3 linked regions of the Homo sapiens genome follow. The protein of the gene in region 1 interacts with the protein of each later gene in a pairwise test. Each region holds a gene or a part of one and is shown in the gene's direction. Other genes may lie near its edges.

Region 1 (3,650 bases):
ACTGCACTCCATCCTGAGCGACAGAGGAAGACTCCATCTCAAAAAAAAAAAGAAAAATAGGCCAAGCATGGTGGCTCACGCCTATAATCCCAGCACTTTGGGAGGCCGAGGCGGGCGGATCACAAGGTCAGGAGATTGAGACCATCCTGGCCAACATGGTGAAACCCCGTCTCTACTAAAAATACAAAAATTAGCTCAGCATGGTGGCACATGCCTGTAGTCCCAGCTACTTGGGAGGATGAGGCAGGAGAATCGCTTGAACCCGGGAGGCAGAGGTTGCAGTGAGCCAAGATCGTGCCACTGTACTCCAGCCTGGCGACAGAGCAACACTTTGTCTCAAAAAAAAAATAACATATATATATATAATAAATATGTATATATTATATATACCTTATATTAATATATAAGGCAGGTATCATTTTCCCTACTTGACAGTTGAAGCAACAGAAAAACTACAGCAGGGTTACTTGACTTGTTTAAATGTGTAGATTTGGGGGTGGGCGCAGTGGCTGGTGCCTGTAATCCCAGCACTTCGGGAGGCTGAGGTGGGAGGATTGCTGGAGCCTGCCCAGGAGTTCAAGACCAGCCTGGGCAACATGGCAAAACCCCATCTCTACCAAAAATACAAAAATTAGCCAGGCATGGTGGTGTGTGCCTGTGGTCCCAGCTATTTGGGAGACTGAGGTGGGAGGATTGCTGGAGCCTGCTGGGAAGGCGAGGCTGTAGTGAGCTATGATCATGCCACTGTACTCCAGCCTGGGCAATAGAGCAAGACCCTATCTCAAAAAAATAATAATAATTTATGTGGGCCAGGCGCGGTGGCTCACACTTGTAATCCCAGCATTTTGGGAGGCTGAGGCGGGTGGATCACCTGAGGTCAGGAGTTCGAGACCAGCCTGGCCAACATGGTGAAACCCCGTCTCTACTAAAAATACAAAAATTAGCCGGGCATGGTGGTGGGTGCCTGTAATCCTAGCTACTCTGGAGGCTGAGGTAGGAGAATCACTTGAACTCGGGAGGCCAAGGCTTCAGTGAGCCAAGATCGCGCCATTGCACTCTAGCCTAGGTGACAGAGCGAGACTCTATCTCGAAATAATAATAATAATTTATGTGAAAGCACTTTGGAAACATTAAAGCAGCATCCCCAGCCTTTTTGTGGAAGATAGTTTTTCCACAGATGGTGGGCGAGGGGATGGTTTTGTGATGGAACTCTACCACCTCAGATCATCAGGCATTAGATTCTCATAGGGAGTGGGCAACCTAGATCCCTCGCATGGGCAGTTCACAATAGGGTTCATGCTCCAATGAGAATCAAATGCCGCTGCTGATCTGACAGGACATGGAGCACAGGCCTTAATGCTCGCTTGTTTCCTGCTCACCTCCTGCTGTACGACCCGGTTCCTGATAGGCCACAGTCTGGTACTGGTCCATCTGGGGATTTGGGGACCTCTGCATTAAAGCATCATCCTGTACACATAATGTATTATGGATCTATGCATTTTGCTTTTTTTTTGAGTCAGAGTCTTGCTCTGTCGCCTAGGCTGGAGTGCAGTGGCGCGATCTTGGCTCACTGCAACCTCCGCCTCCTGGGTTCAAGCAATTCTCCCTGCCTCAGCCTCCTGAGTAGCTGGGATTACAGGCATCTGCCACCATACCCGGCTAATTTTTATATTTTTAGTAGAGATGGGGTTTCGCCATGTTGGCCAGGCTCATCTCCGACTCCTGACCTCAGGTGATCCACCCGCCTCGGCCTCCCAAAGTGCTGGGATCACAGGCGTGAGCCATCGCAACCTGGATCTATGCATTTTGTAGTCACAGATTTGGAATCATTATTACTGGTAGTTATGTGCACTGAATAAAAGAATCTTAAATCTCCAACAACTCCTCTACTTTTCCTCTTGTCTTTTTTTTTTTTTTTTTTAAGACGGAGTCTTGCTGTGTCGCCCAGGCTGGAGTGCGGTGGCGCGGTCTCGGCTCACTGCAAGCTGCAGCTCCTAGGTTCACGCCATTCTCCTGCCTCAGCCTCCCGAGTAGCTGGGACTACAGGCGCCTGCCACCTCGCCCAGCTAATTTTTTGTATTTTTAGTAGAGACGGGGTTTCACCGTGTTAGCCAGGACGGTCTTGATCTCCTGACCTCGTGATCCACCCGCCTTGGCCTCCCTAAGAGCTGGGATTACAGGCGTGAGCCACCACGCCCGGCCTCTCTTGTCCTTTTCTTTCCCCCTCCCAGCTATGTTCAAATCTACTGGACCCCGTGTGTGTGCTTCCTTAGCTGGTGAGCTCCCTCCTTAGAAGGTAGTCTTATTTGCCTAGCACTGAAAACTGTAGTGCTTAATGGAGTTGTCTCATCCTCCCCAACCAACTGCCAGATCCATCTGTCCAGTCTCCTTGCCAAGTGGAGGTAGTTCTCCTGACTCTCCTTTCTCTTCCTTGTTCCTATTACTAGAGTACTCCTGATTGTGACATCACATTCATCCCCTGGGCGATGGAGCTTGTCACTGGGAAGGAATACTCAGTCGGAGAATAGCCAACAAGATGGGTTACTGGGAGAATCTCTTCAGTGGCACTGAGTGGAGGCATCAGGGGGTTGGAGCCTTGTGAACAGGGAACCTGCCCCCCAACACTTGGAAGGTAAAGAGCTTTGATTCAGAATCCCATTCCAGGCCTCAACCCTCTTCTCTGTCGCTCGGGATTCCTTCTGCCCTTGAAAGTCCAGTTCTTAAAACTTCTTTCTGCAGAAAGCTTTCTGTGATTAATCTGTACCATTTGTTCTTTTTTGTATATTTACAACTTACATAAATTATTGACTTTTACTTGTTAATAATTTGCTTAATACGTTTATGTGTTTTTATGTGTTTTTTTTCCTATGTACTCATTGGGCTCAAGCCTACACCTTAGTTTGAGGACAAGGATTATGTGTTTCTTCTTTTTTTTTTTTGAGACAGAGTCTTGCTCTGTCGCCTAGGCTGGAGTGCAGTGGCATGATCTCAGCTCACTGCAACCTTCACCTCCTGGGTTCAAGCAGTTCTCCTGCCTCACCCTCCCAAGTAGCTAGGATTACAGGTGCCCACCACCATGCCCAGCTAATTTTTGTATTTTTAGTAGAGATGGGGTTTCACCATGTTGGCCAGGCTGGTCTTGAACTCCTGACCTCAGGTGATCCACCCACCTCGGCCTCCCAAAGTGCTAGGATTACAGGCGTGAGCCACTGCGCCCAGCCAGTTGTTTACTGACCTCTTCTTTGGGTTTGACCTTTGGGAGCCCAAAGAAGGGGCATGGCGCCATTGCCGCTGTTTGAGTCCTTGCTCTTTTGGACCTCTCTTTTTTTTTTTTTTTTTTTTTGAGACAGAGTCGTGCTCTGTCACTGGGCTAGAATACAGTGGTGCAATCTCGGCTCACTGCAACCTCCGCCTCCTGGGTTCAAGCGATTCTCCTGCCTCAGCCTCCCGAGTAGCTGGGACTACAGGTGCGCACCACCACGCCTGGCTAATTTTTGTATTTTTAGTAGAGACGGGGTTTCGCCATGTTGGCCAGGATGGTGTTGATCTCTTGACCTCATGATCCGTCTGCCTCAGCCTCCCAAAGTGCTGGGATTACAGGCATGAGCCACCATGCCCGGCCCTCTCTTCTCTTCTTTATCCCCATCACC
Region 2 (3,650 bases), on another chromosome or scaffold:
TGGCATTTCTCCACCACGTGCTCCATCTGCAGGTAGGAGGTGGCTGTAAGATAGTTGACGATGTCCCTAACAGCGAATTCCAGGGTGCCCGTGTAGCAGGAGAGAAGCAGGTCGGCCACGATGCGTGCACTGTGCATCAGGGAGACCTGCAGCTCCGAGCTGGGGTTAAGCAGGAACTGGTCCCGCAGGAACGGTGAGCAGGCGGCTAAGATGACCTTGTGGCCTCGAAACTTGAGGCTGTCGGCCACAATGGTCACGTCGCAGAACCACTCCTCTGCCCGGAGCTTGTTCATGTTCCGTAGCGTAGCGGCCTAGTGGCCGGGCAGCTGGAAGCGCAGGACTTCACCCCAGAGGCCATTGTGGCGGGGGTGGGCAACCCTGGCCCGGTTCCGCGCGCTGTTTTTTTTTAATCCCCTATTTTCCCCACCCCCGCGGGGCCGGAAGCGCCCCCCACACACGGGCAGAGCCAGGGCAGCATGTAGGCGCAGGGCGGGAGGGTGTATAGGGCGCGCTCGCGCTGGCGGGGCCGGCTCCACGTGGGCGTAAAGGGGTAGGGGCGGGAGCGGCTCGTGCGGTGTGTTCCAGGCCTCGCGCGCGCGGCGACGGCGTCGGCTAGGACTCAAACCCTGGAGTTTCTGATTCAGTAGCTCTGGGATAGAGAAAACTTCCCAAGGGATGCTGATGCTGCTGGTTGGATGAACAACACTGAGATCATTGCTTTAAGACATCCATTGTTGGTTGTTGGCAATAACTTAACTTTTTGGCTAGGGGTGGAGGTGTAGGAGACAGTCTGGCTGTCTCCCTCAGGCTGGAGTGCGGTGGCGCCATCTGGACTCACTATAACCTTCGCCTCCCAGGTTCGAGCGATTCCTGCCTCAGCCCCTCAAGTAACTGGGATTACAAGCATGTGCCACCACATCTGGCTAATTTTTGTATTTTTGGCAGACAGTGTTTCGCCATGTTGCCCAGGCTGGTCTCAAACTCCTGGCCTCAAGTGATCTGCCTGCCTCGGCCTTCCTAAATGCTGGGATTACAGGCGTCAGCCACTGCACCCAGCCTAAATTAACTTTTATCGTAGGCATCTAGGGAAGTACTATTTATGTACCAAACTTGGGAAAATTGAGAAAACAGTCACTAATTTTTTCTATTTTGTGGTTCAAATCAGGAACCCAGTTGAAAAAGGCTGGTTTAGAGTAATTGGCTAGTTGTCGTGGCTCACACCTATAATCCCATCACTTTCGGGGGCTGAGGTGGGAGGACTGCTTGAGCTCAGGAGTTCAAGACCAGCCTGGGTAACATGGTGAAACCCTGTCTCTACCAAAAAAAAAAAAAAAAAATTGTTTTTAATTAGCTGGGCGTGGTGGTGTGCACCTGTAGTCCCAGCTACTCAGGAGGCTGAGGTATGAGAATCACCTGAGCCAAAGAGGTCAAGGCTACAGTGAGCCTTGATTGTACCACTGCACTTTAGCCTAGGCAGCGTGAGACCCTATCTCAAAAAAAGAAAAAAAGAAGAATGATCTAATTTACATGGTAAAAATGGGCATTCTCTTTACATGTAACATTTTTAATATGTCCACATATTTATACATACCTCTATTAATTGATAAAGCAACTTTTTTTTTTTTTTGAGATGGAGTCTCGCTCTGTCGCCCAGGCTAGAGTGCAATGGCATGATTTTGGCTCACGGCAACCTCCGCCTCCCGAGCTCAAGCGATTCTCCTTCCTCAGCCACCTGAGCAGCTGGGATTACAGGCACATGCCACCACGCCCAGCTAATTTTTGCATTTTTTGTAGAGATGAGGTTTCACCATGTTGGCCAGGCTGGTCTTGAACTCCTGACCTCAGATGATTGCCCGCCCTGGCCTCCCAAAGTGTTGGGATTACAGGTGTGAGCCACCGCGCCCAGCCAGTGAGACAACTTTTTTTAACAGAAATGCCAAGAATTATTGCTAGACAGGTAGATACTATTTTTTAGACAAATATTAGCTTTATAAAGATATTTTCCTTATAAATACATTTAGAATCATAAATTAAGTGATGTAGTTTAATCCAAAAAACTTGTCCTGTTTCAGAATGTTATGGAATGATTTCATATTTTCTTGAAAATATGGCCGGGCGCGGTGGCTCAAGCCTGTAATCCCAGCATTTTGGGAGGCCAAGGCGGGCGGATCACAAGGTCAGGAGATCAAGACCATCCTGTGTCTCACGGTGAAACCCTGTTCTACTAAAACTACAAAAAATTAGCCGGGCATGGTGGCATGTGCCTGTAGTCCCAGCTACTTGTGAGGCTGAGGCAGGAGAATTGCTTGAACCAGGGAGGTGGAGGTTCCGGTGAGCCGAGATCGCGCCACTGCACTCCAGCCTCGGCGGCAGAGTGAGACTCCATCTCAAGAAAATAAAAGAAAAGAAAAAAGAAAATATATTTGTTTCATAGTATCTTGTTTTTAGAGTGCCATTGAAAGAAAGCCTCACATGCTATTAGTACTAATGATTTATCACTTTAACTTTGTTTAGAGAAATGGATAGAAAAATAAGTGAGTGGATAAAACTAACAAGAAGGTGGCTGGGCGCGGTGGCTCACGCCTGTAATCCCAGCACTTTGGGAGGCCGAGGCGGGCGGATCACGAGGTCAGGAGATCGAGACCATCCTGGCTAACACAGTGAAACCCCGTCTCTACTAAAAATACAAAAAATTAGCCGGGCGTGGTGGCGGGCGCCTGTTGTCCCAGCTACTCGGGAGGCTGAGGCAGGAGAATAGCGTGAACCCGGGAGGCGGAGCTTGCAGGGAGCCGAGATCGCGCCACTGCACTCCAGCCTGGGCGACAGAGTGAGACTCCGCCTCAAAACTAAACTAAACTAAACTAACAAGAAGGATCTTGGCAACAAGAAAAACAAGGACAGTTCAGAATTCGAGTTGTCTTAAGAAATAGAAAAGCTGGCCGAGTGTAGTAGCTCACACCTGTAACCCTAACCTTTGGGAGGCCAAGGTGGATGGATCACCTGAGCTCAGAAGTTCGATACCAGCCTAGGCAACATGGCAAAACCCCGTCTTTACGAAAAAAGGAAAAACAAAAAAAATGCTGGGTGTGGTGGTGTGTGCCTGTAGTCCCAGCTACTCGTGAGGCTGAGGCAGGAGAATCGCTTGAGCCCAGGAGGCGGAGGTTGCAGTGAGACAAGATAGTGCCACTGCCCACTCCAGCCTGAGCGGCAGAGCAAGACACTGTCATTAAAAAAAAGAAAAAAGGCCGGGCGCAGGTGGTTTTTCATGCCTGTAATCCCAGCACATTGGGAGGCCAAGGCGGGCGGATTACGAGGTCAGGAGATCGAGACCATCCTGGCTAACACTGTGAAACCCCGTCTCTACTAAAAAAAAAAATACAAAAAATTAGCTGGGCGTTAAGGCGGGCCCCTGTAGTCTCAGCTACTCTGAAGGCTGAGGCAGGAGAATGGCGTGAACCCGGGAGGCGGAGCTTGCAGTGAACCGAGACTATACCACTGCACTCCAGCCTGGGCGACAGAGCCAGACTCCGTCTCAGGGGAAAAAAAGAAAAAAGAAATAGGCAAATTGTAAAGTAAGGAAGAAAATATATGATAGGCAGATACATAATTATAAATGTCTATGACTTAACTATATAATTAAGATAAAGATC
Region 3 (3,650 bases), on another chromosome or scaffold:
AGCAAGACCCTGTCTTAAAAAAAAATTATAAAAAAAGAAAGCACCTCTCACTTTGATTTCTGGTTCCTTATTTTTCTAGAACCTTCAGTATTGTGGCATTAGCATAATCTTTCCAGCCTAATCAATCCTTCTTTCCTTTCCCTCACATTTAATTGAATACCTGTCATGTTCCAGGATATGGTAGGGATCCAGAGTCCTTAAGACCCAGCTGTCACCCTCAGGTTCCTCAGGGAACCTAGAAAGGAAGACAGTTACATAAATAGGTCGCCTTTGCATAATCAAAGTCCTCTGTAGTCTCTCACTGGCTGTGAGATGAGAGTTCAACAAATTGGGTTTTCCAACTTTCTATCCCTCTCTTTACACTTTACATAGCTGAACATGCACATTCCAATCATGCCCTTTCTTGCTGCCACCATTCTTCCAGCTTGGAATGTCATACCTTTTCGTCTCCAAGTGTGGGTCCCATGCACTCATTAACTTAAAAAAAAATTACTTATTGTGCTAAGCTGTGGGAATATGGAAGTAAGAGCTACCTCTTCTTGTAAAGGACCTATTTAAGCAGGAATTTCAAAGTCCTTTCTCTTCGTCCTCTGAACTCATTGTCAGTACCATGTGTAGTATTTGCTACTGGAGCCAATAGCTGACTTGTGATGTTGGATGTGTGTCCTCTTTTTCAAGCTGTGTGGAAGGCTCCTCAAGGGCAGAGACCAGAGCCTCACACAGTGCTTACACATCAGGCATGCTGTAACATGCTGGGTGATGGTGATATGCATTCCGGAATGGGTGTGGGAGGGACTGGGATTCAGTTTCTTCCATACTCTGCAATCCTTGCTATTTCAGATTTCCTCAAGGTGGTACTCTATTATATTTGAACAATTTAACTGAAAGTGTTTCTAGAGTGGCATTAGAATTCATTGACTCAACATTTCCAAAACCTACAAGTTATAGAGGATGAAACCAGCTGATAATGGAAATTAAATGTCATAAAAGAGAAAATTTTATTAACAAAATTAAGATAAAAAGTGAAATATGTTATTTATAGAAACTTGCATCTGTTAATGTAAGACTAGAGGAAAGGTTTTTCTACCCCCCCAAATATTCTTCCTAGAAAATTAGTTCGCCCTGATTATAAAATTGCAGACAAAGAAGAGTATGATATAGAGAGTGAAAGCCCTGATATGCTCCTGCCATCCAGAGGTGACCATTAAGAGTTTGGTGAATATTCCTTCTGTTTTTTTCCCTAGGTACACAGTAAAGTCATACAGATCTTTGAAAGATATGTAGTCAGACTTATTGAGTAAAAGGGGTTGGGCATGGTGGCTCACACCTGTAATCCCAGCACTTTGGAAGGCCATGGCAAGGAGATTACTTGAGTCCAGGAGTTCAAGACCAGCCTGGGCAACATAGGGAGACCCCATCTCTACAAAAAATAAAAAATTGGCTGGACATGGTGATGTGCACCTGTAATCCCAGCTACTCAGGAGGCTGAGGTGGGAGGATCACTTGAGCCCAGGAGGTAGAGACTGTGGTGAGGTGTGATTGTGCCACTGCACTGCATGCAGCCTGGGTGACAGAGCTGGAATGCAGTGGCGTGATCGAAAAAATAACAATTTTTAAAAGGGGCACTGATTTTAAGCTATAACCCCTATATTTTAAATACATAGGCTGGATTTTATCTTGCTCATACAGACTTTTAAAATGATACCCTGTGTTTAGCCCTGAAAAGTGCTTACTTCTTCTTTGTCTGATGGGTCTTAAAATTTTCTATCCTTGCAGCTTACCCTGTGTTACCACTCCACTAAAGAAAACAAAGTATTCTTTTTTACAATAAAAGGTTATTTTTATATGAAACTTTGAATTTCACATTTATCAACTCATTTGATTTTCAAAACTGGTTTTGTTGGAGGTGCAGGTCAGAAGAGGAGTGGAAACCAACCTGCCCTAATCCTATTGCACCCATTTTCCCATCAGCTCACTAAAGAGTCGTGTGGAAAGTTGGTAGCTTTATCCTCAGAGGCCCTCCTGGATCCTCTCTGGACCTTTCCCAGGTGATACCATTTCAGGAAAATGGGTTTCTTTTCAAAGACAGAATGTCTTTAGGACAGAAAGGGGTTGTTTGCCTTCTAGGTATGTGCATGAGGGGTTCATTTCTTAGCTTGATTTTCTTTCCAGTGATTCATGATGTGACCTTCTAACAAGTTCCTTTTCTTAAGTCTAAAAAGTGTGGACCTGGTACCCCTTTACTGAGTAAAGAGAAACTAAGGCATGCGGTTTGGAAACTAATGGTAATTTCAGCATTGAGACCTTGGTGGGACTTTGGAGCTCACAATCAGACCAGTGTTTGACAGTTAAGCTTGTGTATACTTACTCCAGCTCTCTCTGGACTGGTCTTGTATGGGTCCAAGTCGTTGTAAGTTCAGGAAGGTAATTAGATCCCTTTGATGGGGGTAAAGAGTGGGATCTTTACCCCCGATCTGATACTGGGGAGATTCCAGGCATCTGACTCTATAAACTCAAAAAGAAAGACCTGATTGGTAAACTATAATCTCAGTTTGTTAATTTGTACTTAACCTTTATGTGCCTCTGAAAAATGGAGGAAGTAGTAGCACCAATTTCACAGGGTTATTATGAAGATTAAAATGACATTATCAGTAAGTTGAGTAAATTTTGAGTGCTTGGTGGTGGCAGTGGTGAGAAGTGATTGGATCTGAATATATTTTGAAGGTAGAGCTGATGGGATTTGCTGATGGATTGGTTGGATGTGGAGTTTGAGAGAAAGAGGAGTCAAAGATGACTCTAAGGTTTTTGGCCTGAGCATCTGGAAGGATGGTTCTGTCATTTACTGTGATGTGGAGATGTAGGGGGAGGAGGAGGATTAAGGGATGGAATCAAGAGTTTGGTTTCAGATGTGTTTAGTTTGAGATACTGAATAGACATGCAAGTGGGGATATTGGGTAGGCATTTGGAAAAGGTCCAAGCTAAAGGTAAGGATTTGGGGATCATTAGTATAAATGGTATTTAAAGTCATGGAATTAGGTAAGATCACAAAGGAGTGATTATAGATAGAAAAGAGAAGTGTTTGTCATAGTAAGTGCTCAGTAAATGTTGGCAGTTACTCCCATTACTATAACTACTTGAATTATTATTGCTGATACTTTATAGGAAATGTTACAGAACTACTGGGTGAACCATAATCTCTCATTTTCTTTGTATGAAACCTCTTTGGGGAATCAAAGCTATATTAGAAATTTCCATAGAGAATATGCTGTCAAGATCCAGGGAGTTAGATGATCCTGGTGAGTAGTGCTCCTTGAAGTCATTCACCCGTGAGAGCTGGATGGCTTCAGGTGTTGGGATTTGATAGGCCTGGGTTTGAGTCCTGGCTTTACTCTGCACCAGCAGCGAAACCTCTTTGAACCTCAGTGTCTTCCTCTATGAAAGAAGGCTTACTTTGCAGGGATGTTAGGCAGATTCAAGGAGATGAATGTGAATGCCTTCCTTTCCCCTCCACTGTTAAGGACTAGGACTCTGGGCCAGTCAAGTTCCCTTTCTGGAACTCATTGGAGATACTCTGTTTCTTTTGTGCTGCTTCTTAAAACCTTACTCCAATTACTAGCCCTCTTGTACTGATAACAATCCCTTGTTCAGTG

Evidence for each region.
Region 2: the proteins of RNF41 (region 1) and UBE2K interact in binary tests that used the Homo sapiens proteins (3 or more experiments, as listed by UniProt).
Region 3: the proteins of RNF41 (region 1) and ENOPH1 interact in binary tests that used the Homo sapiens proteins (3 or more experiments, as listed by UniProt).

The regions. Positions count from the first base shown.
Region 1 is NC_000012.12:56,215,411-56,219,060, reverse strand, and holds part of RNF41 (E3 ubiquitin-protein ligase NRDP1), read left to right. Parts: intron 1-2,447; 5' UTR 2,448-2,632; intron 2,633-3,650. UniProt on the Homo sapiens protein: Acts as E3 ubiquitin-protein ligase and regulates the degradation of target proteins. Polyubiquitinates MYD88. Negatively regulates MYD88-dependent production of pro-inflammatory cytokines.
Region 2 is NC_000004.12:39,771,079-39,774,728, forward strand, and holds part of UBE2K (ubiquitin-conjugating enzyme E2 K), read left to right. Parts: exon of another isoform or gene 1-621; intron 622-3,650. UniProt on the Homo sapiens protein: Accepts ubiquitin from the E1 complex and catalyzes its covalent attachment to other proteins. In vitro, in the presence or in the absence of BRCA1-BARD1 E3 ubiquitin-protein ligase complex, catalyzes the synthesis of 'Lys-48'-linked polyubiquitin chains.
Region 3 is NC_000004.12:82,437,067-82,440,716, forward strand, and holds part of ENOPH1 (enolase-phosphatase E1), read left to right. Parts: intron 1-3,650. UniProt on the Homo sapiens protein: Bifunctional enzyme that catalyzes the enolization of 2,3-diketo-5-methylthiopentyl-1-phosphate (DK-MTP-1-P) into the intermediate 2-hydroxy-3-keto-5-methylthiopentenyl-1-phosphate (HK-MTPenyl-1-P), which is then dephosphorylated to form the acireductone 1,2-dihydroxy-3-keto-5-methylthiopentene (DHK-MTPene).